3 separate regions of the Homo sapiens genome follow, and regions 2 and 3 are each linked to region 1. The links come from fine-mapping of genetic effects on gene expression. A gene starts in region 1. Each other region holds a variant in brackets. All regions are shown on one strand. Distances are between the middles of the regions. Region 1 holds the start of TENM1 (teneurin transmembrane protein 1). Region 2 has its middle 53 kb from the start of TEX13C. Region 3 has its middle 25 kb from the start of TEX13C.

Region 1 (10,376 bases):
CATTTGGATACTAAATAGGATTAGGTAAAGAGAAGACTTTAATTGGCTTGCCAGTTGTTTTCCTGAGCCTTACTTGGGTATGTGAAAAATAGTGTGTCTGACTCTGTTCTGAACAGATGGATGCAGAATCCTGGCCACCAACTGTTCATATCCAGGCTCAAATAAGCTTCCTCCAAGGTGGCTGCTTTCCCCAGGGGGAGCCCACAGCTGGCCGGAAATGGGCACTCCCTTGCAGCAAGCTGGTGACTGCAATTTTACAGCCCTGTTTATGGAAGCTGTTTGGGTAGAAAATCATTAAGCTACCTTTCCTGCTTCCAATCATTGTAGCCAAAAGTTAAGGTGCCAGCACTACTCATAATCTCTGCTAGTTGATCTCTGGATGGTGTTGTTATCAGTTGAAATAGGAAATAATAGTCTACCACAACGAGTACATGTTGAAATTATGCCTTTGAAAACATCTTGCCATTAGACAAGCAACCAAACAAAACTCCTTCATTTCAGATGGTGCACATTGATTTTGTTTATGTAATTGATATTGACTTTAGTCTTCTAATATTGATATGGTTTGGTTGTGTTCCCACCAAATCTCATGTTGAATAGTAGTCCCCATAATCTCTGTGTTTCATGGGAGAGATCCTGTGGGTGGTAACTGAATATAGGGGTGGTTGCCTCCATGCTATTCTTGTGATAGTGAGTGAGTTCTCATGAGATCTGATGGATTTATAATGGGGGGCTTTTCCACCTTTTGCTCTGCACTTCTCCTTGCTGCCACCATGTGAAGAAGGACATGTTTGTTTCCCCTTCCACCATGATTGTAAGTTTCCTGAGACCTCCCCAGCCATGCTGAACTGTGAGTACAATGAAACTTCTTTCCTGTATAAGTTACTTAATCTCAGGTATGTCTTTATTGGCAGCGTGAGAATAGACTAATACAAATATTATTGTACTTACATTCTTATTATGAGGGTACTTAGAAACAAAACTGACATGTCATATTTTCCATTATGCATTCTTCTCACAGAATGCAACCTATAGATTAAAAATATATTTAAAAAATCAAGGCCAGAACATCTAAATATTGTTCTCTAGGAGTGAAATAGTCTAGATACACGGTAACAGTCACACAGTATATACTTGTTGATTAGCAAATTGTTCACACATCTTTGAACATTTCTTAGCTTCTTTAAGTCTCAATTTCTTTGCCTATTCCCAATGCTGGCACAGTTCCTGGAATATAGTAGATGTTCCATAATCACTTGCTGAATTGAATTTATGTAATTACATTAGTTTTGGGAATAAACATAAAAAGGTGTATGAGTGCATGTGTGTGTGTGTGTCTTTGTTAACAAAAAGGTATATATCTTAAAATTCCTAGCAAATTATTTTAATAATATACACTTGGCAACTGGACAACTGTCATATAGAGATTGCATGCTCCATTACAATCTGTTATATTTACATTGGCTATTCTGAAACTAGCAATTTAGTGTGTCTTCTTCCTGATATTCATATTTGAAATAGAAATTCTTGGTCCCATGAGCAAAACTACTTGAAAATTCTGCAATTTCATGTTGCTTAAATGTGTCTGGGGAATCTCTAAAGTTGAATAAATGCCTTAGGAAATCCACCTACAATATCAGGATATAGGCGTCTAGAAGCAGCAAATCAGTTCTTAGGAAACAGAGAAAAGTGACAGAGCCCTCTGTACTTCGGAATTAGGACTGGAAACAATGTTTTGAAGGAACTAAAGGGAGACAGGTGCAGACCAAATGAATTAAGGACACCAGGGAGCCACAGGAGACCAGTAAGGAAATGAGAGGGAAGAATGCTAGAGAAAATACAGCATAAAGAGGAGGTGGTAGAGAATTTCTAAAAAAAAATGATTACAGGGACTGCTGAATTGCCAGGAGAGAAACAAACTCGGCCTCCTTTCATGAAATCCCTAAGTATCAACTCTCCCTTTCTGCCAGTATCTTCAAGAAGAGTAACAAAGGAACAGCAAGAATGAGAGTGAGATAATCATGCTTTTAAATTCATATTCCATTTCCTTGGTCATTAGGGTTTGTCCATGTCCCATTTGGCCAGAATTCCCTTTTTGTTATGGGGAGTTCTTTTCTTAATCGCTGGTTACGGAAACACCCAGAGTATTTCCAGTCATTGGAGAAGTGACTGGCCAGATGTTTCTTTTTTTTCTCCTTCCAGAACTCTTTGGTAAGGATTGAGGAGGTATCCTGAAAGTCTTCCTTCCACAGTTCAGGGTTTGGGCAGTTCATAATGTGGAATCTTTATTTAGGATACTTAAATCTATATATGTTTATACAAATAACTTGTTTTTGTTTTGTAGGAGGGTAGTGGGTTTTAGGAAGGTTTCGTTTACATATTTGTGGCAAGACACAGGTTTTATACCCATCCTTTCACTACTGCTTTCTCAACAGCCCAACAGAGAGCCGGTGATAGAAGCAGTTGCTATGCCCCTACAGAGCCTGGTTGTCATCTTTTGTTTCTTTGTTGGCAGGGCGGTGGGGCGGGACGGGAGTGGGAGGGTGTTGAGCCGCAGGGATCCAAATGATTCCTGCCTGAAGCTGAAGACCTTGTTGGGAAGGGACGATGGGAATAAACGTGCTCTTGATTCCCTGATTCTTCCCCCTAGAGTGTTCAGCTCTTTGTATTTCCTCCCCTTGGTGGTGTGATGGTCTTACAATGCTCCCTCTTTGCAAATACCTATATCAAAAGCTGGGAAAATGGGAACACACGGTTCAGAGAACTCCCCCTGGCGTCACTCTGTACTACCTCTCTTTCTGAAACTGAATCTGGTCCCCCTGCTCAGGAGCACAGAGACCAGCCCGGAAGCCGACCTTGGGCAGCTGCCGCCACCCAGGGAAGGGAACAGTTGGAAGCTTTGGTGTTCGCCCACCGCGCCAAGAGGAACTCTTCCCGGTAACTAGCACCAGCCACGACTCCAAGCCTGCCTTATTGTAACCTCTAGCGGGTTCCCAACTCGGCAATAGCTTCTCGCTCTCCTGTCCCTGTTCTTGCGGAGGAAAATTTAAAACGTGCGTGCACATATACGCATTCACACACGCCCTTCTTTCTTTACTTAAAAAAAAAAAAATCAGTAAACGTCCTTCGCCCAAAGAATGTTCGACTCTTCACGCTCTCTTTTCTTTACCTAGAGGTCAGCAGTCCCTTGGGAGCACACGCGGTGCTCCCTAGCTGCTCTGCGCGCCCCCTACCTGCCTACGGCTGGGGTGGCACCGCGGGGCAGGAGGCCTGGGAATCCGCTAGACTCCTATTTCTCCAGTTTGTGCAGCTCCCCTGGCTCGGCACTTGGTATCTCCCACGGTCTTGCTCTCTGTGGGAAGCCGGAAAGAAGACTGCTGTGGGCGTCGCCGCCACCCCTCCCGGAACCAGAGCCTGCTCTAGCGTGCATCCAAGCCTCCTACTTCAGACTCACATCTGGCCCAGTCGGACAGATGTTAGCCGCTGGAGAGTGCCTCCATGCGAAGCGCCCCAAGTCCCGAGCATGCCCAGTCGGACTACTAAGGCTTCTGACGCGAGTTTCTGGGCGTGCAGATTCCGCTTCTCCGCTTTTTCGAGGAAGCTGAGGAGGGTTGGGAGGGAGGGAGGGATCCAGGGCTTGGGGCAGCGCGCTGGGTTCGCCCGAGTACGTGCCCTGGTGCCAGGCTGGGTGAGGGGCGGAGCCGTTTAGGGAGCCCAGGAACCTGGGCGGCCAGGCAGGGCAGGATCCCTTAGCGCTCCCCTCTTCCCCCAACCACCTTCAGGTGGACGTCGTTACTGCTGATCTGATGCGCCGCCAGTAGGCTGCATGTGGCCGGCCGGCCTTGGCGCTCTGGGGTCACACTGTCAGCAGGACGCAGTCGGCGGTGCACTCTCACCGACAGACGCACGAGAGCTTGTGGGTCGCTTATGCACCGCATTCACGGGCTTTTGGCTTTTCTGGAAGGCGGGGGAGAGGAGAATAAGAAAAGGAAACCAAACAATTTCTCTCCCCCCGCCCTTTTTTTTTTTTTTTTGCCAAAGTTATACTGGCAAAAGACTTCGCATTCTAAGTCAGTCCTGAGGCTTTGAACATAGAAGCAGTGATTGTGCTCCTGTGTGTGCGCTCGTGTGCGCGCGCGTGTGTGTGCACGCGATGTTTGTGTATGTCATGACTAGGTAACACTGTCCCAGGCTGATCCTGGGGTTGACAAATACTCATCCGAACCCCCCACCCCACCCCTCACCCTCAGGAGAAAGTAATTAAAAAAAAAAAAAAAAAAAAAACATCGAGTGAGTCACCTGGCCAGGCATCTATCCACTGTAGTAGGAAATCTAAATTTTGTTGATCCATATTTCCTTCCTCTGCTTCCATATCCAGCTTTCTCCTTCCCCTCTCCACCCTATAACACCCTGATCTTTCTCATTGCGACTTCCCTTCCTCTGCCCGATACTTGCTCCTTAAGCCCTTCTCCTCTTTCTCCTCCTCCTCCTCTCCCTCTCCTCCTCCCCCCACCTCCCTCCACCTCCCATCTCAGCTGCGGCTAAAACCTGGAGTCTTGGGGAAAAGGAGAAAAAAAAAAAAACCTCGGCTGTGAAGCTGTCAAACCGGGCATGCTCAGTAGACAGGGCAGGTTTTTTGGTCTCGAGTAGCGGAGAAACATTTTTTGCACCACCGCGACCAGCCTTAGAGCGCGGCGGCGGCGGCCACGGCAACATCAGCCCAGCCATCAGCCGAGCAGACGCCCAGCACCCGGGAGCGCGGCGAGCTTCGGCTCAGCCCGGAGTTCACCTCCGAGTGCCCCGGGGGCTGAGCTCACCCCTTCTGCTCTCTCACACACGAACACTCTCTTTCACTCACACACACACACGTATTCACACTCTCTCGCACACACATAGGACCCTGGGCGCAAGCACCCTTCTGGCAGCGGTCGTCCGCTGGTGCAATAGTAGCTAGGTTCGGTTCCTGCCTCCGGCGGCCGCCGGTTTAGAGCACCGCTGCCAGCAGCCGGAGGAGAGCAATGCGGGGGCCCGAGCGGCAGCTCGAACAGTAATGTGGATTTACAGTCGTTTCCCGCAGGAGTCGGCCGAGACGCCCTAAGTCCCGGGCACTGGCAGCGCCCGGCGGAGCCGAGCACCTGGCGAGGGGGCGGGGGAACAGCACCTGGGGACGCCGCCGAAACTTGCGCTTGGAATAGGTAGGTGCGTTTCTCCTGGCTCCCACCCCATTCCTTCTCGCTCCCGCCCGCCACCCCCAACCTTCTACCCCAAGGACTACAGGCGAACTTCGCCCCGAGGCTGCAGGCGGCGGATGGCGGCTCCTGGCTGTTAGCGGCCGGTTGAGTCCGCTCTGGGACTCCTGCCCGAGGTGGCAGAGCCTCCGCATCCTTCTTCTCCCGGTCTCCGCCGGCCATGGGGCTCTGGACCATCTGGGGCAGAAGGGAGGTCGGCCTTGTTCGCAGTTCAAGCTTCCAGCGGGCCCTGGGGACGCTGCCCTTCGAGGGCTCGCTGGGCTTCCCAGGCGGCACTTTTACCAACCAACTCCTTCAGTTCTGAGAGGGAGCCTCCTCGCCTCGGCTCTCGCGCAGAGCCCAGTCACTCTAACAAGTGGACCTGGGTGCTTGGGGTGAGGATGGGAGGCTCGGTCTAAAAAGAAAGAAAGGGGCGCTTCTCTGGCATCCCTCCCACCCTGGAGCGTTCGCCTGGGGCTCTGCCACTGGGGTCCAGGTCCTGCTGTCTCCGCAGAGAATATGCCCAAGGGCTAGGACGCACTTTAGTACCTGTTTGCTTCTGAATTTCTATTTGAGCCTCACTCAGGGAGCCCGGGTTCCCGGGGGAACTGCAGGACCTCCTAACCTACGCCGCCGTCGAGGGCCCCACCCGATGCGTCCTCCCTATACCTTTGTCAATCTTTGTCAAAAGAGATAGTCATTACAACCCAGGCGGTGCTCCAGGAGCCGTCGGTGTTGACTTTAACCATGCGCTCCAATGTGCGGGTTTGTGTGTTTCCGCATTTCATCCAGAGACTTGGTCCCCGAGATTCAGCAACGGCCAGCATATCTGCGAGCGCCAAGCACCCGCTAGGCAGGCTTGGGGAAATGTAACCTCACTTTCTTCCACTCCATAACAGGAGGATTGCCAATTTAGTTTCAGGATGCTTTGCCTAGAGGCGGAGAAGGGGAGATTGTTAGCGCTACTTGGTGAGTGGATGTGTTTGCAGTCAGGAGTGTATTTAAACATTTCAGTGAACCCGATGCAGTCAGTTGTTTACAATTGCGGAGACAGAGGATCTCACTCCACTAGTAGATGTTTCCACGTCTGTGTCGCCACTGGGAGAGTAGGGGCGGGGGCGGGGGCTGGTTTGCAGCTCGTACTCGCCGTCGGCAGCTTCGGGTTGAGCAGATCTGCATCACTGCTACTGGCGATATGCTAATAGGGGTAGAAAAGCTCTACATCTCCAATATGAAGCAATTGGTCAGTAAACGTCCTGAACTTAACCGTTGTTTTCCTGGGATACCAACCTGGAGGTGTTTTTGAGGTGGCCCAAAGAAATACAAAGAGAAGTTCTCAGTGCTACAGAAAGGAAATTAGTAGCCATTTGGTTTTAAAGACCAAAAGGAAACGAAACATCCCAGTGCACTCTAATAGGTACTGTTAGATTAGCGTTTAATTGATCGCGTTTGTGACGAGTAAGTGTCGCAGACAGCTTCCTTGAATTTTAGACTCTTGTTCTATGATTATAATTAACAAGCCAGGTAACAATGTACTGTGAGAATCAATTGCTACTCTTAACGTGTTTGAGGAGAACATGGCAAATGTCTGCTCTATTATATTTTTTGGCTGAAATAGCCCAGTTCATCTTCCTAGTCCGAAGTCTTCTGATCTGGAGCAGTAGATACTCCAGTGTTACCAAGAAAGGGAAGAGTCTAAGAGGGAAAGGCTTAAAAAACAAAATTAATGAAAAGGCGATCCACACCTTTAACTTCTGCTCCATGATTACCCAGCATCTGCTTGCTTGCTCACCCCCGCTCCTTGCTCTTCATATCTGCAACGTGGGGAAAAATGAATTTTCATAAGGCATAGTAAGACCCTCAAAGTACATAACTGGAGAAACAGAATCCCAATTTTGCCATTTTAGTTCAAGTTCATAACACTATTTTGTGATGCATTAAATAATTTACTATGGCAAAGTTGGGGTTTTTAAGAGTAATTAAAAGCTTTCAGGTATGACAAAATAATGTTGAAAACTTTTCATGATTAAAGAAAGTCGAAATATGCATTTAAAAAGGGATCAGGTAATTCCTAAAATAAATCCATGCTCTAAATATTATTTAAAAGTTTTCAGGTTGTTCCCCAGAATGTTTCTGAAAAACAGGTGTTTCTATAAAACAACTCTATGAAGAAATGTTAACATTTTCATAATAAAACTAGTAGAGTCCAGTCCTGAGAACAATGTCAGCTATACATAGCAGAAAAAAACCCCACAAATATTTTTGCATACATGAAGTAGTATTTTCCATTAGGTTTAGGTTCCAATTATGAATTAGGGACAGTCATGTCATTTGACAAAATATACAGTGAGGCTAAAGGAAAGAATGCTTTGTAGAATCATTGTGCTGTAAAGGTGATTAAGATTTCAAATATTCAAACGTTTAGGTGTATTAAAATAAAATTGTATTATACATAACTATCATCACATTCAAAGGCCTAATTCAGTCTGAATACCCTAGAATTCTCAGTGTTTCAATTCAGCTATTATATGTGTAAATAACACCGACATAATCATAGTTTCCCTCATAGTCATTGATCCTTTCTGATACCTTTACCAGAAAGATTCTTGCTGAAGCAGAACAGTCTAGCATTCAAGTTTATTCTATACAATATTACTTTAAATTGTCAAACTGCAAAACATTCCTGATATGTTGTTTCTGAAAACAGAAAACTTAGTGGAAATTTATTTTCTGTGACAGCCTTAAAAACTTGGAAGTAGTAAGAAATTTTAGTGTTAATTAATAAAACAAACATTTTTCATATTCTATGTTAGAGATAGACATTTGGAGTCCATATAATTTTTGCTTGAAGCTTGCTTTTCCTAAGTCATTCAGTTTCAGATTTAAGTAAAGCTATCAAGTAGTTGGTATAGATTATGGTTAATAAATTCCCTAAAGTTTCCCAAAACAAGTTAATTATTATTATTTATGCATTTATTTATTTACTTACTTATAAATGACCAGAGGTCAAAAGAAGACCAGTACTTTGAATAACTGAGTCAGTGATTAATTTTTTTGATGAAAACAAATTTTCTTATAGTACTCATATTTGTTCTCTCTCTCTCTCTCTCTCTCTCACACACACACACACACACACACACGGAAGCAATTGCTTGTGAATGCCTTGAATCAGATATAAAACATGTACAATAGCTTTATTAAAATTATATATATTTGTTAAATTGCTGTGGATTTTAACCACAAAATTAATAATCCATGCGTACTTAAAAAGCTTCCCATCACTTAACATTTAGAAGAAAGGTTTAAACTGGATTCCTAGTATGACTACAGGCAGATGAAAAATATTGTAAGGTACAGAATTTAGCAATTGTGACCAACAGCATATACCCACGACTGGAAGTGTAACTGCTGATTATAAAAATTAAAAGGAATCAAATTTCAGAAATGCTCACATATACCACAATTTCTTTAAATCTTCTACAGCTTCTGAGTGTTAGATTAAATCACTACTTTGAATGGAGATTGCTATTATTTTTCCTTCCCCTAAAAGGTAAAAATATTCTGAATCCTGGCTTAATATATTATTTTTATTCCTTTCTGTTTTCCATTGATTTTTTTTAGAACAGAGGAAAGTAAATATCAAATATAACCAGCTAGAACCATGCTTAGTTTGAGCAGGTGAATGCTATAAAAGGCTTCACACAGCTTTTAATTATTCTTAACAACCTTGATGACCAACCATAGGTGTCTGTTCAGTATTCGGTGCTCTGTTATGGCAATTTATATAATGTATAGAGATTTTGTAGTTTGCTAGACGTGCTGTGGTACAATTTAGCAAGACCAGCAAAATTGCTTACATTTGGAACCCATGAAAAATAGGGCTGAGGAAATTGGAATATGATGGCATAGACTGAAAATTATTATATAACAATATTTATATCAATTGCAATGCTAACATTTCTGTATAGAAATTAAGCTAATTTAAATTTGAAAAGTAAATATTTTTACAGGTGACATGGATCCCTAATATTTTAAAATAGTAACTTAGAGTCTAATAAATGAAGTCTATTAGATTTTTATGTAACTTCAGGACCCATTTCAAGGCCTGGAAGTATAATCTTGGATAATTTACAACTTAAAAAATTATTCTAAATTGTACTTCCTGTCCGAGCCTCCACTTTAGGTAAACAATAGCATATGGTGAAACATGCATATATGCCAACTAACCACTACCTCTTGGATGATGTTTTTAATGTGATGTAATGATTCTGAAATATTGGATTCTCCACCCCCGCTCTATTCTAACTGTAAGAGTGGAGAAGCTAATTGGAAAATGGACACATAAAAACATGTTAAAAATCTCTTTTCACATGGGTGGATAATCCCCTATGAAGTTCTTACCTGGGAGCCTTTATATTTCTGTTTATGGTAGATATGTGCCAAGGTTAATACTTTTTCTCTGGGTGCTTATGACAAATTTCTATGACTGAATCTAGGTGACACCCAAATATGTGACTGCACCATTCTGTTAACCATCCAACTGTTTGGGGTGAAAAACATCTGGTTGTTTGAGAAAATTGTTTACCTAGTTTCTGGGTGTTTTGGAGTCACTTAACAGGCCGATGACCCTTAATATCCATGTCAAAAGAGAAAGAAAAAATAAAATAAAACACTTTAAAATACATGTAAAATATCTTAAACACTCTTGGGTTACTATAAAATGCCCAATGAACTAAATGCCATCGTGAATCTACAGCCTTCTATAAAATGTATAAGGAGATGTTGCTTGCATTCTACAACAATTACAGAAACAGAAACACACTGACCTTTTCAGCAAGGCAGGAAATTAAAAACTTTAAATTCAATTCTACACCCTACTCCCCCTTCCCTGCCCCCACCCCTGCCCACTGTACTGATTCATCAGCTTAAAGAAATTGACTTAAGGGGCTTGATACAGTGGCTTCTTAAAATTTCCTGTACCTCATTTTCCACTGATTGTGCTACTGCCATGGAAACTAGATGGGACAGACAGCTGGGAGTCACTAATTCAGAATGGGAATCTGCTTGTTAATTTAATTTCATGCCAGCCTGTTGGTCCCTGAAAGTAACTGCTGTAAAAGGCTGGGGAATTGAATTTGCTAGAAATAA
Region 2 (10,376 bases), 63 kb before region 1:
ACTACATAACATCAACAGATTGAAAAAGAAAAATCTAATGATCTTATCTATAGATGCAGAAGAAACATTTGACAATGTTCAATGCCCATGAATGATAAAAGCCTTCAACAAACTACAGATGGGAATGGGGACATCCTCAACTTTATAAAGAACCTCTGCAAAAAACCTAGAGCTATCTTCATACTTATTGGTGAGAAACTTGAAGCTTTCCAACTAAGATCGTGAATAAGACAAGGATTTCCTCTCTTACCACTCCTTTTCAAAATCACGTGGAAAGTCTTAGCTAATGCAATAAAACAAGAAAAGAAAATATATACATATAGTGATGGGATAAATAGTTTTTGTTCACAGACAACATGGTCTTCTGTGTAGAAAATCTGAATCATAAAAAAAACCTGGAACTAATAAACAATTTTAGCAATGCTGCAGGATATGAGGTTAACACAGAAAAGTCAATCACTTTTCTGCATACCAACAATGAACAAGAGAAATTTGAAATTAAAAACACATTGCCATTTACATTAGCATCCCTAAAAAAGAAATGCTTCATATAAACCTAACAAAATATATACAAGATCTATATGAAGAAAACTACAAAAATCTCACGAAAGATATCAAAGGAGAACCTTAAAAATGTAGAGCTATTTTATTTTCATAATTAGGAAGACTCAATATTGTCAAGATACCAGTTCTTTCCAACTCTGTATATTCAATGCTATACGAGTCAAAATATCATCAAGATATTTTGTGGTTATTGACAAACTTATTCTAAAGTTTACATGGGGAGGTCATATACTCTGATAGTCTTTCCATATAAACCTTAGAATAGCCAACCCAATATTGAAGAAGGAAAACAATCAGGATCCTGACACTACCCAACTTTGAGACTTACTATAAAGCTACAGTAATAAAAACAGTGTCATCTTGGTGAAAGAATGGACAAGTAAATCAAAGGAACAGAATAAAGAACCCAGAAATTGACCCACATAAATATAATCACCTGATTTTTGACAAAGGAGCAAAAGCAATACAATTGAGAAAAGATAGTCTTTTCAACAAATGGTGGTGAAACAATTGGATATCTATATACCAAAAAGTGAATTTAGACACAGATTTTGTGCCCTTCACAAAACTTAACTCAAGTGCATCATAGATCTAAATGTAAAATGTAAAGCTATAGAACTCCTAGAAGATCACTTAGGAGAAAAACTAGATAACCTCGGATATGATGACAACTTTTTAGATACAACATCAAAGGCATGATCCATGAAACAAAAAATTAATAAGCTAGACTTCATTAAAATTAAAAACTTATGCTCTGCAAAAGACAAAGCCAAGAGAATGAAAAGACAAGCTACAGATGGGAAGAAAATATTTTCAAAAGACACACCTCATAAGAAAATATTCAAAATATATAAAGAACTCTTAAAATTCAAGAATAAGAAATTAAAAGTCTGATTAAAAATGGGTAAAAGACCTGAACATATACTGCAACAAAAGAGATAAACAGATAGCAAGGAAGCATGTGAAAATATTTCAATATAATATTTCATAAGAAAAATGCAAATTATAACAATACTGAGATACCACTACATTACCTATTAGAATGGCCAAAACTCCAAACACTGACAACATAAAATGCTGTCAGTGGATCTACCATTCTAGGGTGGGGAGGGCATTGGCCTTCTTTTCACAAGTTCACTAGGCAGTGCACCAGTGGGGACTCTGGGTCTCTCCTACTAGATATAGGATTATGATTACTACAATTCAAGGTGAGATTTGTGTGGGGACAAAGCCAACCATATTATTTCAACCCTGACCCCTCCCAAATCTCATGTTCTCACATTTCAAAACACAATCATACCTTCCCAACAGTCCCCCAAAGTCTTAACTGATTCCATCATCAACCCAAATGTCCAAGTCCAAAGAAGGTCATTATATAATAATAATAAAAGGGTCAATTCAGCAAGAGGATATAACAATTATAAATATACATGCACCCAACACTGGATCATACAGATATATAAAGCAAATAGTATTAGAGCTAAAGAGAGAGATAGACCACAATACGATAGTAGCTGAAGAATTCAGCACTCCACTTTCAGCATTGAATAGATCTTCCAGACAGAAAATCAACAAAGAAACATCTGACTTAATCTGCACTAGAGACCAAATGGATCTAACAGATCCATTTACCGAACATTGCATCCAATGGCTGCTGAGTACACATTTTGTCCTCAGCACATGGATCATTCTCGAGGATAGACCATATATTATGTCACAAAACAAGCCTTAAATCATTCAAAAAATGAGATTACATCAAGCATCTTCTCTGAACACAATGGAATAAAACTACAAATCAATAACAAGAGAAATTTTGGAAACTATACAAACACATGGAAATTAAATAATATGCTCCTGAATGACCAGTGGGTCGATGAGGAAATTGAGAAGAAAATGGAAAAAATTCTTGAAACAAACGATAATGGAAACACAATATACCAAAACCTATGGGATATAGTGAAAGCAGTACTAAGGGGGAAGTTTATAGCTGTAAGTGCTTACATCAAAAAAGAAGAAAAACTTAAAAAACAAACCTAATGGTGCATCTTAAAGAATTAGAAAAGCAAGAGCAAACCAAATCCAAAATTAGTGACAACATGAAATAATAAACATCAAAGCACAAATAAATAATTTTGAAATGAATAAAACAATACAAAATATCAATAAAATATAGTTTGTTTTTTTGAAAAGATAAACAAAATTGACGGTTCTTTAGCCAGACTAAGAAAAAAACAGAGATGACCTAAATCAATAATATCACAGATGAAAAAGGAGACATTACATCTGATACACAGAAATTCAAAGGAATATTAGTGGCTACTGTGAGCAACTACATGCCATTAAATTGGAAAATATAGAAGAAATAGACAAATTCCTAGACACCTACAGTCTACCAAGATTGAACCATGAGGAAATTCAAAACCTGAACAGACAAATAAGAAATAACAAGATCAAAGTTGAAATAAAAATTGTTCAAATAAAGCCTGAAACTCAATGGCTTCACTGCTGAAATCTACCAAACATGTAAAAAAGAACTAATAGCAATTCTACTCAAACTATTCCAAAAAATAGAGAAGGAAGGAATACTTTCAAACTTATGGTATGAGGCCATTATTATCCTCATACCAAAACCAAAGACATATCAAAGAAAGAAAACTGCAGGTCAATATCTCTGATGAGTATTGATGCAAAAATAATCAACAAAATACAGCAAGCCAAATTCAGCCATATGTGAAAAAGATCATTCATCTTGACCAAGTGGGATTTATCCCTGGGATGCAAAGATAATTCAACATATGCAAATCAAGCAATGGGATACATCATATCAACAGAATAAAGGACAATATGGTCAAATCAATAGATGCTAAAATTCATAAAAAGACCTTTGATAGTTGATCAGAATTGGTGCTTTTTCTATTATTATTAATAAGTAATAATAAAACATGACTTCATAATAAACATATTTATTGTTTGTCATACTTCTATAAATCTCTGCCCTACAATCACATAAATTTGCATAAATTATATTTTATATTATTTCCATAAAAAAGTTTAAATGGTTCTTTTATAATCACATTATTGAGTGTAATACTAACTGTAGAGAACATTTGACTAGACTCAGGATAACTTAATCCTCTTTTTATAATTTTATACATTTAATGATGGGAAGACTTTTGCATAGACGGGTTTTTGGCTTTGTACATTTCAGATCTTGCTATTCCTCTACTATCTTCATATTTCCAGTGCTGGAAGCTGTAGCTGTTGTTCATATCACAACGTGACTCCAGGTTTTCATCTTCATGTTGTATGCACAGAAGGTGGTAGGAATATTTGTGGAAGCCACTCCTACCCTGGGGCAGGTAATAATAACTATACATGAATGTGACTGTGGATCATGTAGATATATCCTACTGAAGTCAGACTAAATAATCTCCAACTGAACTTCTTCTGAGCCAGTTCCCTAATGTGCCTGTTGTCACTTGAGTCCCATTCTATGCAAGGAAGAGTGAGTGGGGAGAAAATATAAAAGAGATATTGGTTAAAAATACTCATTCTGTCTTGCCGGCTGCCATGTAAGACGTGCCTTTCAGCTTCCACCATGATTGTGAGGTCTCTCCAGCCACGTGTAACTGTGAGTCCATTAAACCTCTTTTTTTTTGGAAAAAAAAATATATATATATGTATATATATATATGTGTGTATATATATATATATACATATATATATATATTTGTATTAGTCTGTTTTCACACTGGTGATAAAGAAATACCCAAGACTTGGAAGAAAAAGAGGTTAAATGGACTCACAGCTCCACGTGGCTGGGGAGGCCTCACAATAATGGTGGAAGGCAAGGAGGAGCAAGTCATGTCTTGCATGAATAGCAGCAGGCAAAAAGAGAGCTTGTGGAGAGGAACTCCCCCTTGTAAAACCATCAGATCTCCTGAGACTTATTCACTATCACAAGAGCAGTATGGGAAAGACCTGCCCCCATGATTCAATTACCTCCCACCGGGTCCCTCCCACAACACTTGGGAATTTAAGATGATATTTGGGTGGGGACACAGCCAAACCATATTATTCTGCCCCTGGCCCCTCCTAAATCTCATGTCCTCACATTTCAAAACCAATCATGCCTTCCCAACAGTCCCCTAAAGACTTAACTCATTTCAATATTAACTCAGAAGTCCACAGTTCAAAGTCTCAACTGAGACAAGGTAAGCCCCTTCCACCTATGAGCCTGTAAAATCAAAAGCAAGTTAGTTACTTCCTAGATACAGTGGGGATACAGGTATTCAATAAATACAGCCATTCCAAATAGGAGAAACTGGCCAAAACAAAGGGGCCACAGGCCCCATGCAAGTCGGAAATCCAGCAGGGCCATCAAATCTTAAATCTCCAAAATGATCTCCTTTGACTCCATGTCTCACATCCAGGACATGCCGATGCAAGAGGTGGGTTCCCATGTCTTGGGCTGCTCCACCCCTGTGGCTTTGCAGGGTACAGTCTTCCTCCCAGCTGCTTTCCCCAGCTGGTGTTGAGTGTCTGTGGCTTTTTCAGGTGCACAGTGCAAGCTGTCAGTGGATCTACCATTCTGGGGTATGGAGAATGGTGGCCCTCCTTTCATAGCTCCACTAGGTTGTGCCCCAGTAGGGACTTTGTGTGGGGGCTCTGACCCCACATTTCCCTCTGCACTGCCCTAGCAGA[T/G]GTCCTCCATGAGGTCCCTACTCCTGCAGCAAACTTCTACCTGGGCATCCAGGAGTTTCCATACATCCTCTGAAATCTAAGCAGAGGTGCCCAACCCAATTCTCGACTTCTGTGCACTCGCAGGCTCAACACCACATGGACGCTGCTAAGGCTTGGGGCTTGCACCCTCTGAAACCATGGCCCGAGCTCTACATTAGCCCCTTTCAGCCATGGCTGGAGCATCTGGGTTGCAGGGCACCAAGTCCCTAGGCTACACACAGCATGGGAACCCTGGGTCCAGCCCATGAAACCATTTTTTCCTCCTAGGCCTCTGGGCCTGTGATGGGGGGAGCTATCATGAAGACCTCTGACATACCCTGGAGATATTTTCCCCATTGCCTTGGGAATTAACATTCTGCTCCTCATTACTTATGCAAATTTCTGCAGCTGGCTTGAATTTCTCCTTAGAAAATCAGTTTTTCTTTTCCATTGCATTGTGAGGCTGCAAATTTCCCAGACTTTTACGCTCTGCTTCCCTTATAAAACTGAATGACTTTAACATTACCCAAATCACCTCTTGAATGCTTTGCTGCTTAGAAATTTTTTTCAAAAGATACCCTAAATCATCTTTCTCAAGTTCAAAGTTTCACAAATCTCTAGGGCAGGGGCAAAATGCCACTAGTCTCTGCTAAAACATAAAAAGAGTCACCTTTGCTCCAGTTACCACCAAGTTCCTCATCTCCATCTAAGACCATCTCAGCCTGGATTTCATTGTCCATATTGTTATCAGCATTTTGGTCAAAGCCATTCAACAAGTCTCTAGGGAGTTCCAAACTTTCCCACATTTTCCTGTCTTCTTCTGAGCCCTCTAGACTGTTCCAACCTCTGCCTGTTATCCAGTTCCAAAGTAACTTCCACATTTTCAGGTATCTTTTCAGCAGTGCCCCACTCTACTGGTACAAATTTACTGTGTTAGTTCACTTTCATGCTGCTGATAAAGACATACCCAAGACTGGGAAGAAAAGACATTTCATGGACTCACAGTTCCACATGGCTGGGGAGGCCTCACAATCATGGTGGAAGACAAGGAGGAGCAAGTCATGTCTTACTTGGATGGCAGCAGGCAAAAAGCTTGTGCAGGGGAACTCCCCCTTAGAAAACCATCAGATCTTGTGTGACTTATTCACTATCATGAGAACAACATGGGAAAGACCAGCCCCCATGATTCAATTACCTCCCGCTGGGACCCTCCCACACATGTGGGAATTCAAGACAATATTTGGGTGGGTCACAGCCAAACCACAACAATCTTAGTTTTACAAATTTTGCAAAACCATGTGATGATGCAAATATATCACTAGTGCTCTGTTGTGCATTAGGGTGTACCCTAATCCAATGTGACTAATGTCCTTGTAAGAATAAGATATTAGGACAGAGCCACACACAGAGGGAAAATCATGTGAAGACACACAGAAAAGATGGCTATCTACAAGCCAAGGAGCGAGACCTTAGACAAAAATCAACCCTGCTGACCTCTTTATCTTGGACTTCCAGCCTCCAAAATTGTGGGAAAATACAACCAGTCTGTGATGTCTTGGAAGTCATAGCAATTGATACAGTCCCATTAGGGTCTTTCGAGGGACCCATTCTAGTAAGGGTTTCCTGAATCTTAAGCTTCATTAGTTTCATCATAAATCCATCTCTATCTGTACCACACAGTTTGTCACTCAATTTTGTTCTATCTTGTATCACTAATTTATAATTCTTTCCAATTTTATTTTAAGTGCCTTGAGGATATTGACAGTTTTCCAAGTCTTCAACATTCACTCCCATCCATGTTTTATCCCTCTAATATCCCAAGATAGGATTAGATACAGAGTGTATCTATTAAATAACATTTATTGAATCATTCATCACATCTATATGTAATCTCACCTGGAGTTATTAAAGGTTTATTAAAGAGAGCCTTTGTCATCTCCATAAGATTAAATACTCTTCTGTGAGTCATGGCTATTTTTGCAGTATTGATGTTCACATAAACACTTTTGTTGAAAGCCAGAGTAACTTTAGTATACTAGCAAGTGCTATCATAGGCTAAAATTAATATGCATGCATATAATACTAAATATCAGGTATCAAATAAATATTTATTAATAACTAGAAACCAGGAAACTAATTTATATCTTGGAAGCACATAAATATTATGAAAAGAGAACTACAGTAACTGATCAAATAAGTATAGAGAGTCATTAACTTCATTATTGTTGAGATCATGTACTACTCAAATTAATAAGTTGTTAACACAATTTCCCAAGAGTGTTATCCTCACCCCACCTAATTCACAGAATCTGAGTATGAAAAGCAATTTTATATATGCAGAATCCTACTTTCACTTTTTCACATTTCATGATCTTGGAGGGTGCATGTAAACAAAGATTGAATTTAGAAAATAACTAATGCCTATGTAGATTTAAAAGTAATTAGAAACATCCTAAATCCTGTCCGTTTGTAATGTGTTGCTACAAAATCTGTTCTTTTTATTGATGAACTTTTAAAATTAGCTTTATTTCTATTTGCTGTTGTTAAAAATTACTGTTGATTTAATTATTTTCCAGATTAATAATTGAATAGGCTTTACTCATAATTTATTAAATAAAACATACAGAGGTGTGAACGAAAATTAGTATTTTCATAGTGGTTTATTTGATTCCACTGACTGTTTCCCTGTTTCCTAGGTATGATCTAGGAAACATAGTTTAAAATATCTAGATACACATGCAAACCCCAAACTTCTCATGATAAGCCCCAGATAGACTTTCTTATGGCTAAATAAATAAATATAATGCCACAATTGAGTAAGCCAGTCTGTTTCTTCTGAAACTGAGCCGTTAACTGTCAAAAATGGTAGACATGGCCATAGTGAAGGTGTTATTATATTAGAATAATTATTGTATTATTATATATTATCTTATTGATAGGGACAGGAGGCAGAAAAATTCTAGGCAGAAAAGGATGGGACCCTTGGAGAAGCCCTACCCTGGAGCCTGGAACCATGGCCCAAAGTGAGAACATGCATTCTTGTTTTCCTGCTTGAATGTTGCCTTTTCCAATACCTCCCATGGCCCACCCCAGCCCACATCCTGTACCCACAAAAACCCTAGGCTCCACCAGTAGAGAGCAGAGAAGGGGAAAAGAGGAGAAACAGCTGGATGTCAGAGACTGTGGCTTGACATTGGAGAGAAGCAGCTTGACCTCAGCGAGACTTCGGAGAAGAGTATGGCCTGAGATGGCTGGACTTCACGGGAAGGATACCTTCCCACTCCATCCCCTTTACAGCTCCCCATCCCGCTAAGAGCCACTTCCATCAGCAATAAAATCCCCAGCATTTATTATCCTTCATGTGAACTAATTTTTCCTGGACACCAGACAAGAGCTCGGGATACAGAAAGCTGTCACACGGACCCTCTGCTCTTGCAAAAAGGCAGAGGGTCCACTGAGCTGTTGAACACTTAAGCCATCTGTGGACAGCAAAGCTAAAAGAGCACTGTAACACATGCCCTCTGGGGCATCAGGGGTCACAGGCACCTCCCTAGACGGGGGCAGCACAGAGTTTTGCTCCTGCCAGCACCCAAAAGTGTTCGCTCCAGCTCCTGCACCCACTCCTCTACATGCTCCCCCTCCTGTGAGGGGTTGAGAGCTGCAGGCTGAGTAAGCAAGGCATCCCTGTCCTGAGTCCCATGAAAGGGGTCAAGGAATAGTTCCTGTTTCATCATGACGTATACCAGCAAGTTTCATCCAGCAAAAGGAATTAAAAAACGAAATAAGTACTATATCTTCCAAATATTATCATATAAAGAAAAATTATAAGTATAATAAATGTAAGAAAACAGGTGGCCAACTAGATTTTTTAAAACCATAAGGTAGAATGAAATGTACAATAAAGATATTTCAGTCAATGGGAGGCAGAATGTTTAAGGTGTATCTATGCAAATCCTCTCATCTTTTAGTTGTAGATCAATGTTTTATATATGATAAAATATTAAACATCATGAGCATCTTGACTAAATGATTATAGCTCTAATTCTTGCTTTGTTATTTAGCCAATAACACATTGCTGTTGATGGTTTCAGCTAATGACTGTACCAAGCAAAAAATCTTTCTTCTTTTTAAACTGCAGCACTAAAAGCTAAAATGTGTTTCATAAGTGGCTTCTGCCTTGATTATCATCATCAACATATAAAAGGGTAAATAATGAATGTATTTTCTGAGTCAGGTTCTATGATGTGAAATGCTGAAATAATAAATTATACTTTCATGGAGCCATAAGTAAAACAAAATACATGCGTGTTCTAATTGTTCTACTGTAATTGTGGTCATTGACTAGGGTTCCTTTAAATAAATATGTTTCCTGCTGGGAATGGTGGCTCATACCTGTAATCCCAGCAATTTGGGAGGCCACGGTGGAAGGATCCCTTGGTTTAGGAGTTTGAGATCAGTTAGGGCAACACAGTGAGACCTCTGTCTCTACAAAAGATAAAAAATTAGCTGTGCTGCTACACTCGGCCTGAGTGACAGAGTGAAACCCTATCTAAAAAAAAAAAACACACACACACACACAGAAAATAAATAAATGAATATTATGTTTCTTGATTATAAAAAGATTATATGCTTATCGTAGAAAATTGGGAAAGTTTAGAAGTTTAAAGCTAATTCTCTATATACCATTGTATTCCACTTCCTTTTTTTCTCCCACATTCCATATCTTACATATTTTCCCACGTATATTATAATTCTTTGTAAACATTTTCAGAGTTCCATTCTAATGGTAACTTACAATAAATTGGCTAAATAAAGGTTACACATAGAAACATATTAGATATATTTAAAAGTAAATATACTATGCTAAAAAAGAATGCTTGTAATCAGAGACTGTTAGTTGTTGTTTGTTAGACAATACCACATTTTTAAACAAGTATCCTTTTTAGTGTTATTCATTTACTTGAATTCTTATTTATGGAAATGAATAACTGTGAATAAATGTGTCCAGCATATAACAAAAGTATTCCATTAATACTTCCTTAGAAATATTTTAGCTGTGGTAGAAGTGGGAGTACAATTTTAATTTGGAT
Region 3 (10,376 bases), 92 kb before region 1:
CCACAAGTTCAGACCCAGGAGCATAGTAAGTGTTGAGCAGTTAGCTTGGCTGCCTGAGACACACACACTGGCCTGGGACAGGTTAGGGGTCTGCAGGGACCTAAGGGAGTAATCTTAGGCCATGACCTGAGCCCAGATATCGAGCTCTGCTGGTAGCAGCAGTAGAAATACCAGTGGTGGTAGGAATAGTTGCATCCTGGGAAAAAGGAGGGGTTCCATATAAGGAAAATGCTGGGACTCAAGATGGGTGATAAGCTTGCGTGTTCTGGCATCGCATCCCTGCAGCATCTGTATAAATACTAACTCTGGGCAGGAACTGCCAGAGCTTAGTCAGTAAACTTTGCCAGTGAATTACTACAAAACAAAAATAAACACATGAACATTGCAATAAAACATATCAACAAATTATTAGAATTCTTTAAAGTGTATAGAATTTCTAAATTTGAAAACGGTTGCAACATTACAGAATGAATATCCATGGACTTAGTAATAGCAATTAAATTTAAAGAACACAATTTTTTATTAGAGGCTTTACATTAATCAATTATTAATAAGGAAGAAAAATTTAAAATTGTTTTTCTTTGTAATTGAATATATAGCAATAGAATGCATAAACAGCCATTTTGAATTGGAAATAAATCATGAAACCACTTTCAGTTTCTTCTACCACCTTCTCAAATTACAGAAAATGTCAGAGAAAACATTAAAATTCCATCATATAAATTTACATTTACAATTAAATTTAGTCTTAAATGAAATTGATTTGAATGAAGAGTTAAATCTTTTTAGAAAAATTGTTCTGCAAGAAATATAAATTCCACATGTACTAAAACTTATATTTAGACCTAATTTATCAGAAATCATCTCAATATTATTATAGCCTATGTAATACTCTTAACAGTGGTATCAGCAGAAAGATCCTTCTAAAAACTTAAAAATTATCAAAAATTATTTGCATTCTTGTATTTGCCAAGAGCAACTGACACCACTTTCAATTATAGCAATTGAAATTTAAGTGGCTAAAAGTGTGTATTTTGATGACTTTAATAAATAAATGTACAGAAAAGTGAGCCAGAAAAATCTTCTGACGGATCAAGATGTCATGTTAATAAAGTACGATTGCCTAGGCGCGATGGCTCACACCTGTAATCCCAGTACTTTGGGAGGCCAAGGCGGGCTGATTGCTTAAGCCCAGGAGCTTGAGATCAGCCTGAGTAACATGGTGAAACCCTGTCTCTAGAAAAAATAGAAAAAGTAGCCCGGCATGGTAGCACACACCTGTAGTCCCAGCTGCTTGGGGTGCTGAGGTAGGAGGATCACTTGAGCCTGGGAGGCAGAGGTTGCAGTAAGCTGAGATCAGACCACTGCACTCCAGCCTGGGTGACAGAACAAGACGCTGTCTCAATAAATAAATAAATAAATAAATAAATAAATTAAATAAATAAATAAATAAATAAATAAATAAAATCATTTATTATATTATATAAAATTATTACACCAAAATATTATTTTCTTTGCATTAAGTTCATCTTGTTATTCATGTATCTACCCCATTAAGTTTATAAGTAATGAAATATTTTTTAAAAAAAGTTTTATATTTTAATACCCTAAACTACACATTTTTCTTCTTTTTGAACAAAGAGTCTCATATTTTCATTTTTCACTAGGCCTTGCAAATTATGTAGCCGATCCAGCTTGCAAGTATTACCATAGAATAAGAGAAACAGAGATGATCTTTGTTATCCTATCAATAAACTTGTATTTTAATAGATATAGCATTAAGCAAATGAAGCTATGGTATTGTGGTAGTTACTGTTTTTGTCATGCTCAGGATATTCTCCCAGCCCCATATCTTATAAAAAGAAGTGAGCCTGTGACCTAGGCTGAGACCATCATAGCAACCCAGCTGTATGATCCCACTGATTGGCCCACGGATGAACAAGCCAGAACGATCTGAGGTCTTCCTCGGGATTATTCAGCTAAATGTGGTAGGGAAGTGTCTCTCTTCCCTGTAGTTATGGAATTGTAGGGATGTCAAGGAACTATAAGAATATGACTCTATGGGTGTCAGAGGCCATTTTCTCCACAAAGTGGAGAAGGCTGAAAGGAAGAAACTAACATTCAAAGCAACCAATAGTGGGTAGAAGAGGGAGAAAAAGAGAAAGGGAGAAAAAAAAAAAAGACCCATAGGATTGAAATTGTATTTTGCATACTTGAGATTCCTATAGCTGCCCTGTCCTTATAGCTTTTTTTTTTTCTTTCTTTCTTGATTAGGAGAGCTACTCTACATGTATTTAATATATTCACTTCTCCCTCTTAAGCTAGTGGGAGTTGGATTTCTCTTGCAACCAATATAATCCAAACTAATAGATGGATGATAACAACTTTATATTTGTGAGCATTTCATAACATATCATAGAAACTCTGAATAGCCAACAGCAATAATTCAAGAATAATTGAGATAGAATTACCATACATGATCAAAATTAAAATACTAATTTTTGTGGAGAATTTTATAATGTGTAATATATGTACAGTATGTCATTTCACCTTTACACCAATTCTGTGAGCAAGACAGGATAAGTATTAATATGTTTCTGTCTTCCACACATTAGATGGGAAGCTGCATAACAGAAAAAAATATATATCTTTTTCAGATTTTGCAATTACCTGGCAGAAAACCATATTTTACAAATAATGAAACAGGATATATTGGCCCAAGGCTACACAAATGGTAAGTGACTGGTCAGAGACTGGTTCCCCTGGGCATCTAGCATTTTGTGTTTTGTGATAGGCATTATATTTGACATTACAGATACAAAGGTGAGGAACATCCTAGTCCTCCTTCTCTTAAAGAATTCACAGTCTAGTTCACAAAGAAGGACTTCTCAGATATTTCTGATATATCCCATGCTGTCCTGTTGAAATCACTCAGCTGGTGATAAGTTTGAGGTAAAACACTTTGTATTACTAGCTTATATTCACAAAAGGATCTTGAAATGTTCAGTGTTTATATATTTAATCATATTTTAACTTTTATTGAATGGTAAAAGAATTTTCCCCCCGCCCCCTACCAAAAAAAAAAAAAAGATACAGGCCGGGTGCAGTGGCTCACACCTATAATCCCAGCACTTTGGGACGCTAAGGCAGGAGAATTGCTTGAGGCCAGGAGTTCAAGATCAGCCTGGGCAACATAGTGAGACCCTATTTCTATTTAACAGAAAAAATAATAAAAGTAACAATAATAAAATTTAAAAATTACTCAAACTGTGGTGGCGTGCATCTGTGGTCCCAGCTACTTGGGAGGTTGAGATGGGAAGATCACTTGAACCCAGAAGGTTAAGGCTGCAGTGAGCCATGTTCATGTCACTGCATTCCAGCCTGGGTGGCACAAGGAGACTCTGTCAAAAAAAAAATTCTTCCATAGGAAATCTGGCATATCCAGTGTGGGACTAGAACCTGGCATATACTAGACACTTACTACTTAATGAGTTGTATTGTTGCACTTCCCAGCCCTATCTCTAATAGTTTTCTTCAGAGATGATATATTAGGGTAGTTTAGTGATTGGGAACTCAAGTCAGATAGAACTGTGTCAAGTCCCAGTTCTGCCATTTATGACAGAACTGTAATAGTAACTCCATTACTATTACAAAGTTTAATAATCATTTTGTGCTTTACTTTTCTTACCTGTAGTATGACAATAATAATAATACTTATAAGATTTGTTATGAAAACAAAATATAGTGTTGCAATATAAAGTACTTGGCCTATATGTTGCAATGTAGTACATTTTAAGTTTTGTTTTTTCTTAATTCTAAGTCAAAATAATGTTCGAGATGATGGATATGCTAATTATCCTGATTTGATCATTATGCGGTGCATGCATGTATTGAAATATCACATTGTCCCCTATGAATATGTATAATTATTATGCATCAATTAAAAATAAAATTTAAAGAAAAGGGAAAGTGATTAAGTAATCAAAACAGTGTAATCTATAATAAATAAAAGGCACATAAAATGCTATGATTGTGCATGTTCATGATTAAACATGATTAAATAAACATAAAAAAGCTATATAGACACCTCACCTTTTTTAGACTTCTTAATCTTAAAAATGGTTTCATTATTTAGTTTATAATGCATATAGTACTTTGTTGTAACTTTATTACTAAATATCACTATTTAGTTCCACTTTGACAATAATATCAATCCCCAAAACACATTATTTGCAAGCATCTAGTTTATGAAACGTGCGTGATTCATAGATAATTAAAGTTAAAATGAATTACAAAGTAAATTTTTAAAACTTCTATAGTTGAGCTTCACAAGCCACACCTATTGCAATATCCTTTTTCCGTCATTTACTTCCCTATTCAGAATAACACTATCCAAACTTCTTTTAGGGCATTAATATTATGTAAGTCTAAACGTGAATGTGGAAGTACTCAATGGATTAACTTAAGTATCTTGTTAATTTGTATTAATTATCTTAATTTTTTCTATTCTCGTTTTCAGGAGATTTGAATAACAAAGTAGCATGCATTGATTAAAATTCTAAGTTGACAAAAGCTATTAATTTAGGAAACATA[C/A]ATTTTATGCAAAATGTGGTGTCACGCAAAGACTTATTTATTTCAGTGTAGGATAATCCAGTATGGTGATCAAGATGCATACAGATCATATGCCAGCTTCAGCTCTGTAATATTTTTCTTTAGGGAAAAATGAAGAGCTGTCTTCAGAAGCTGCAATTTCAGGCATTCTTTATAAACACTGTGAATAGTTGCTCAAGTCCAGTTAATGTATTTAATATCGACAACTATCATGACTATTTGGATTGCAAAAGACTTCTTTTATTTCATAACACTTTCTTAGTCTAAATCACTGGTCTTTAAACTGCAGTCCATGAGTCATATCTAGTCTGCCAACCAATTTTTAAACAAAGTGCTATTGGAACACATCCTCCCACACTCTTTCATTTATGTATTAGCTACCTCCTTGGCTTTATGATGGCACAGTTGACTAGTTGTGACACAGACAGAAGGGCCCTTGACAGAAAAAATTTGCTTAAGTCTGGTTTAAATCATTTGCACCATTACGTCATTTCTCTACTACCTTGAATATCTCCAGTCCAGTGGAAGCTTCACTAAGCCAAATTTGATTTAGGGGATTCTTTCAACTATGGTAATGTATTTTCACTTTCTTTTCTCAGTTAAATTCTTTTAGATTTAGTATAGACCCACTGGCCACATTTAATAACCAAAGATCCACTCCATGCCTAACTGTTCTCTTTGAAGTTTCCTAAACTTCCTTTAAACAAATTTCACAGTCTCCTTTTAATTCTCATTATTCTAAACCTTTCATGCATGACAATTATGATCACCCTACCAATACAGAAGTTCTCTCTCATTTCTTGGCTCTAAATTATAATAATATCCTGTTTTTCTCTTTTGTTATAGTCTTCTTTGGCTCATCTTCTTCCTTTCACTTTCTGTGTGCATTCTCCTAGGCCATTTTATATTCTCATGCTATGCGTATCCCTAAAAAAAACTAATTTATTTTCATAGCTTTAACTATCACATCTATGACTGCTGACCCCTAAAAAGACCACCAAAATATCTTGTTGATCTGACAAAGTTGAATGTATTCTGTGTTGTATTAAGAGAAAACACCACCTTGATAGACTTTTAGTAGTGTCTTGGAAGGGGAAGGGAAAGGGCAGATCTTCATACAGTTTTGGGATTTGTCTTAAGGAAGGTCTTTCAAAGAAGGGATCTGCCTGGAATCGGAAAAAAAAGTTGTAACACAGATTTTTAGATTGGTGAATGCAGCAAAGCAAGAATTTTGAAGTGTCCTGATGAGTAATCATTTGATAAGCAAGCAGTTTGCACATTGAGTGATCTGTCATCCTGAGAATGGTGATATTTACCCTGATGAGTAACTTCTTGCCTTGAGCAGGGCAGCTAACTGATCAGCTTATTGTTCAGATAAAAACCTTGTTGCAACTTTATTTTCCTAGGCAATAATGTCCTGAAATAGTAAAGTAATGTTAACCTTGACAGCCTTAGTTCTTGAACTCATTAAGCAGTATGTTTGCAGGAAGTTTGTTCTCACTTCTAGTCCAATAACTTGCAAATAATATCTATAAGATACAGTCTCACTTACTCTAGATGACTGCTATGCCAGGTCCTATTTTCAGTTTCATTTTTATTAATGGTACTAATATACTTCAGGAATCCTAGGTTTGAAGCCTAGGCATTATATTTAACTGCTCTTTCAAAATGACTCCCAGTATTCAACCAGTCATCAAGTTTTGTCTGTTTATAATCTCTTTGATAAAATCCTCCAAAAAGTGATGAGACTAGCATAAGGAGGAAGTAATGAGCAGCCAGGGCTACTTCCTCAGATAGACTGAAGGAAAAGGTAACTTCCTGAATGAAATAATGGTTATGTATGTTAAAGCAGTGTCACAATTACTCAATTACTTGTTAGCCTGAGTCTAGGGTTACACAACTTCCAGAACTGTGATGTAAAAAGAAAAGGTTAAATTGCAAAACAAATGATAGGAGAGAGAAATTTGGAAACCACTAGCAAAACTGAGTGCAGTGCTGTGAAATGTCTTCATCAAGATCTACAACCAGTTAGAAGTTAGAGGTCTGGTATGGTTTGAATGTGTTCACCAAACTTCATATGTTGGAAACTTAATCCCCAAAGTAACAATGGTGGGAGGTAGGAACTAATAAGAGGTGATTAGGTCATAAGGGTTCCACCCTCATAAATGGATGAATGTTATTATCATAGAAATGAGTTCTTTTATCTCTAGATGGGGCTTATAACAAAAGCGAGTTTAGCTCCCTCTTGCTGTTTTGCTCTCATGCTCTCTTGCCCTTCCACCTTCCACCATGGGATGATGCAGCAGGAAGGCCCTCACCAAATGTTGGTGCCATGCTCTTGGACTCCCCAGCTTCCAGAACCGTGAGTCAAATACACTTTTATCATTTACAAATTACATGGCTGTGTGGAGTTAGCTCATGCCTGTAATTTGAATACTTTGGGAGGCTGAGACGTGAAGATGGCTTGATGTCAGGAGTCCAAGACTAGCCTGGACAACATTGAGAGACCATGTCTCTATAAAAAGTTTTTAAAAATATTTTCATTGATTAGAAAAATACCTAATTTGAGGTATTCTGTTACAGCAACACAAAATAGACTAAGACGGGGTCCCTATAAAGTCAATTTCAGTATATAATCAAGGTTGACTAATAAGAAAAGAGTAAGTATTGGCTGATTGAAATAATGAACCCTTACCATCTTTGTGAAGCATTCAGGAATAAAAGCAAAGTATTGTTGCTCTGTTCTAACTTTCTCTAGAGGATAGAAACCATACGACCATTAGCTGACTATTCTTCCTCAAGAACATAAATTCCTTCCTTCCCACTGACCACCAACATTCTGATCATGGATAGTTTGATATTTGGGGAATTGTGGATTCTGGTTCCCAGTTGGCAATGAATTCTTCACCACAACAAACAGGCTTGAGCCTGTTTTCGTGATTCTGTGAATGTCAGGTCTTTCTGATAAAAATTAGTATTCACCAGTAACTAAAAAACAGATAGAGGCTATCTGTCCTTAACCCTAAAAACCTGGCTATGAGGAGAAAACAATCCTCAGACCAAATTCCAACAAAGGTACTCACATTTCTTCACAACCTGTTTATAGATAAAAGAGGCCCCTCTTTCTATCCTTAAGTCCACCTTGCATAAAAAGTTTACTCTAAAACAAATGCAATTGCATTCTTTCACCTAAATGGCAGAATGTGGAAGCTTGTCGTCCTATCAAGGGGTAAGATTTTCAGTGAAAAGGAGATGCAAGACCAATAAGTTTCAGTCCTGGAATGTACCTATGACACAAGACTTCCGATTTCCAACACCTTGCAGATTTCCAACACCTTATTCATACCAATGAGGTTGGTCCTCTTGCACTATTCACAGACAATCACATATCTAAAATACTGTTATTTTTTCCAATCAAAAAATATTTTTAACATTCCTGTGCAAATTGGCCAACCCTAAGTTGATGTATTCATTTAAGATACCTCACCTGCTAATTAGCCCCAAGTGTTGCTTCAGATAAAGACATTTCATATGCTAATTAGTTACCCCTGGGATTTTAATTAGAATTAACTTTTTAATGTTATTCATCACATTGTTTATACAGCCATGATGTATTTTAAATTCCACTCAGACAATATAACTCAGTAAATGCTGCAGGCCCATATATGTATAAACATCATGAAAGCCCACTCCATACTCCATAGCCTGGCTGGCAGAACATAGAAGAACTACATTTCAGACAAGTGGGATGAGCCCAGCCTGTTAGCTCTGCCTCTTAATGTATAATTGCACGTTCTAAAATTTCAAATATGTAGCATTATCTTCTTCTTCTCTGAATTCTCAGAGCACTTTTGGATTTATTATAAGATCCATAAGGAAAGGATCCAGTTTGTTTTGATCACTGCTCTGTTCGTGGCTTACAGAATCGTTTCTGATGAATGAATGTATCAATGAATAAACACATGAATGTGTAAGCTCAGTGATCCCAGACTATGACTGAATCTCTCTGAGCCTCTGAAGTTTCCTTATACATAAAAAAGGAATAGTAATAATACTTACTTTATATTACTAATGTCATATTCTTAACTCAAATGCACTTTACATGGTGCCACTACATTAATTTTCTTGAAACACTATTTTATACAACCTTATCACTGCACTTACCATATTGTTGTATAATTATCTCTTTCTGTGTCTGATTTTCCCACTGGACTATGAATTTGTTGAAGGCTGACACATGATATTTTATATTGTGTCCCCAGATCTAGCACGGTGAAAAGCACATATTAGGTCTCAATGAATGCTTGTTGAATGAATAAATCTGCTTGAGTCATTGCAATGGTTGAAATGAATATAACCATAATTTATATCAAGTATCTGAGTACCAAATTTAATTTTATACTTATTTTCAAAGTTTGCCCACTGTAAATATTTCTACTTTATTATTAAATTGTACCATGCTAAAAAGTTAGGTTTTCAAAGGAAATTAATTCCTCAGAGTAAGTTAACTGAGCCAGTTGATTTGTGGCTATGTGTACAAAGGCAAATGAAATAGAAAGTTGAGTAATTGCTCTGTCAATTTAGTCAATATTGACAGCCACTCTGGAGCACACAGTTTACTTTTTACTTAAATAGTACAGATAATTGTCTCAAATCTAAAAAGAAAGAATGACCCTGCATTTGTTCCCCATATGACATAAAACTGGTTACTGTGAGATGGAAAATTAAACCATATAAAAAGGTACTAGTATGAGGGTACTAATTCCTTAGGCATCAGAAGTACTTACTTATAAAGTTCTTTTCCCTTTAAGATAGCTACATGGTATGACCCTTAGGGAAAACGCCTCTGAAGACTCTATAGTTTTCAAGGAAAGGCACCAAAAAATTGAAATACATTTCCACCCTAAACACATTACTGACAATTCCACATCAACAAACAAGCTTAATCCTTCTTTAGACATATTTGTCTTGCTAGTTAAAAAAAAATTACTAGAACCATGACATTCCCAGTTATTTTGGAATAACTCTAAAATAAGCAGAGACCTTTAAATTCCAAATACTGAATTTTTAAATATGAGCAAAAGCACTTGAAAATAAACATTTATATTTTCATTTATAATTCTTCCAAATTCTAATTATATTTTCTGCATTCTTATCTGCATATGATTTTTACTTAAAACCTAGATGATGGGTTGATAGGGTGCAGCAAATCACCATGCATATGTATACCTATGTAACAAACCGGCACATTCCGCACATGTATCCCAGTACTTAAAGTTAAAAAAAAAAAAAAATCTGAAATTATTAAAAGATGTATATTTTTGCTTATTTTAAATTCATTTTTATTAATTGATAGTATCACCATTCATTAAAATTATATAAATTGATTTAAATATTAAAGCTAAGCCTATGTAAATTAAATGCCATTTGTTAGTAAAAATTGAATTTTGCTAAGAGTTTCAGGTTGATTTAGTTGCAATTGAGCCCTAAATTTAGTGCTCATCTTCTTGGACTCAAACATAAATTGAAAACATTATGGGATTTTATAGTTCTTATTGTCTAATAATAGAAACCAAAAATATTTGTCTACAGAGACAAATGTTACCAGCATTTAATTATTGTATGAATGCTTTGAGGAGCATGGCATAGACTTTGAGAAATATGACAGGCATCGACCCTCATTTTGGTTTTGTCTTGCTCCGTTTTGTACTGCTATAACATAATTCCACATCCTGAGTAATTTATAAACATTATAAGTTTATACC

What was found. PIP is the estimated chance that this variant, and not a neighbour inherited with it, causes the effect.
Region 2: its variant is the best candidate, but not a certain one, in a credible set for the expression of TENM1 in whole blood (TOPMed, PIP 0.75).
Region 3: its variant is the best candidate, but not a certain one, in a credible set for the expression of TENM1 in blood mononuclear cells (TOPMed, PIP 0.54).

What each region holds. Positions count from the first base shown.
Region 1 is chrX:125,198,623-125,208,998 of GRCh38, reverse strand. TENM1 (teneurin transmembrane protein 1) reads left to right here and starts at 4,687. Exons shown (of 35, transcript NM_001163278.2): 1 at 4,687-5,195. It overlaps LOC124905211 (a long non-coding RNA gene), which reads right to left and starts at 4,539. Exons shown (of 2, transcript XR_007068314.1): 1 at 4,300-4,539; 2 at 879-3,957.
Region 2 is chrX:125,261,529-125,271,904 of GRCh38, reverse strand. No RefSeq gene overlaps it. Among named protein-coding and RNA genes, the nearest start is that of TEX13C, 53 kb to the left of the region's middle. The variant T/G (reference allele first, on the strand shown) is at 5,269.
Region 3 is chrX:125,290,135-125,300,510 of GRCh38, reverse strand. No RefSeq gene overlaps it. Among named protein-coding and RNA genes, the nearest start is that of TEX13C, 25 kb to the left of the region's middle. The variant C/A (reference allele first, on the strand shown) is at 4,594.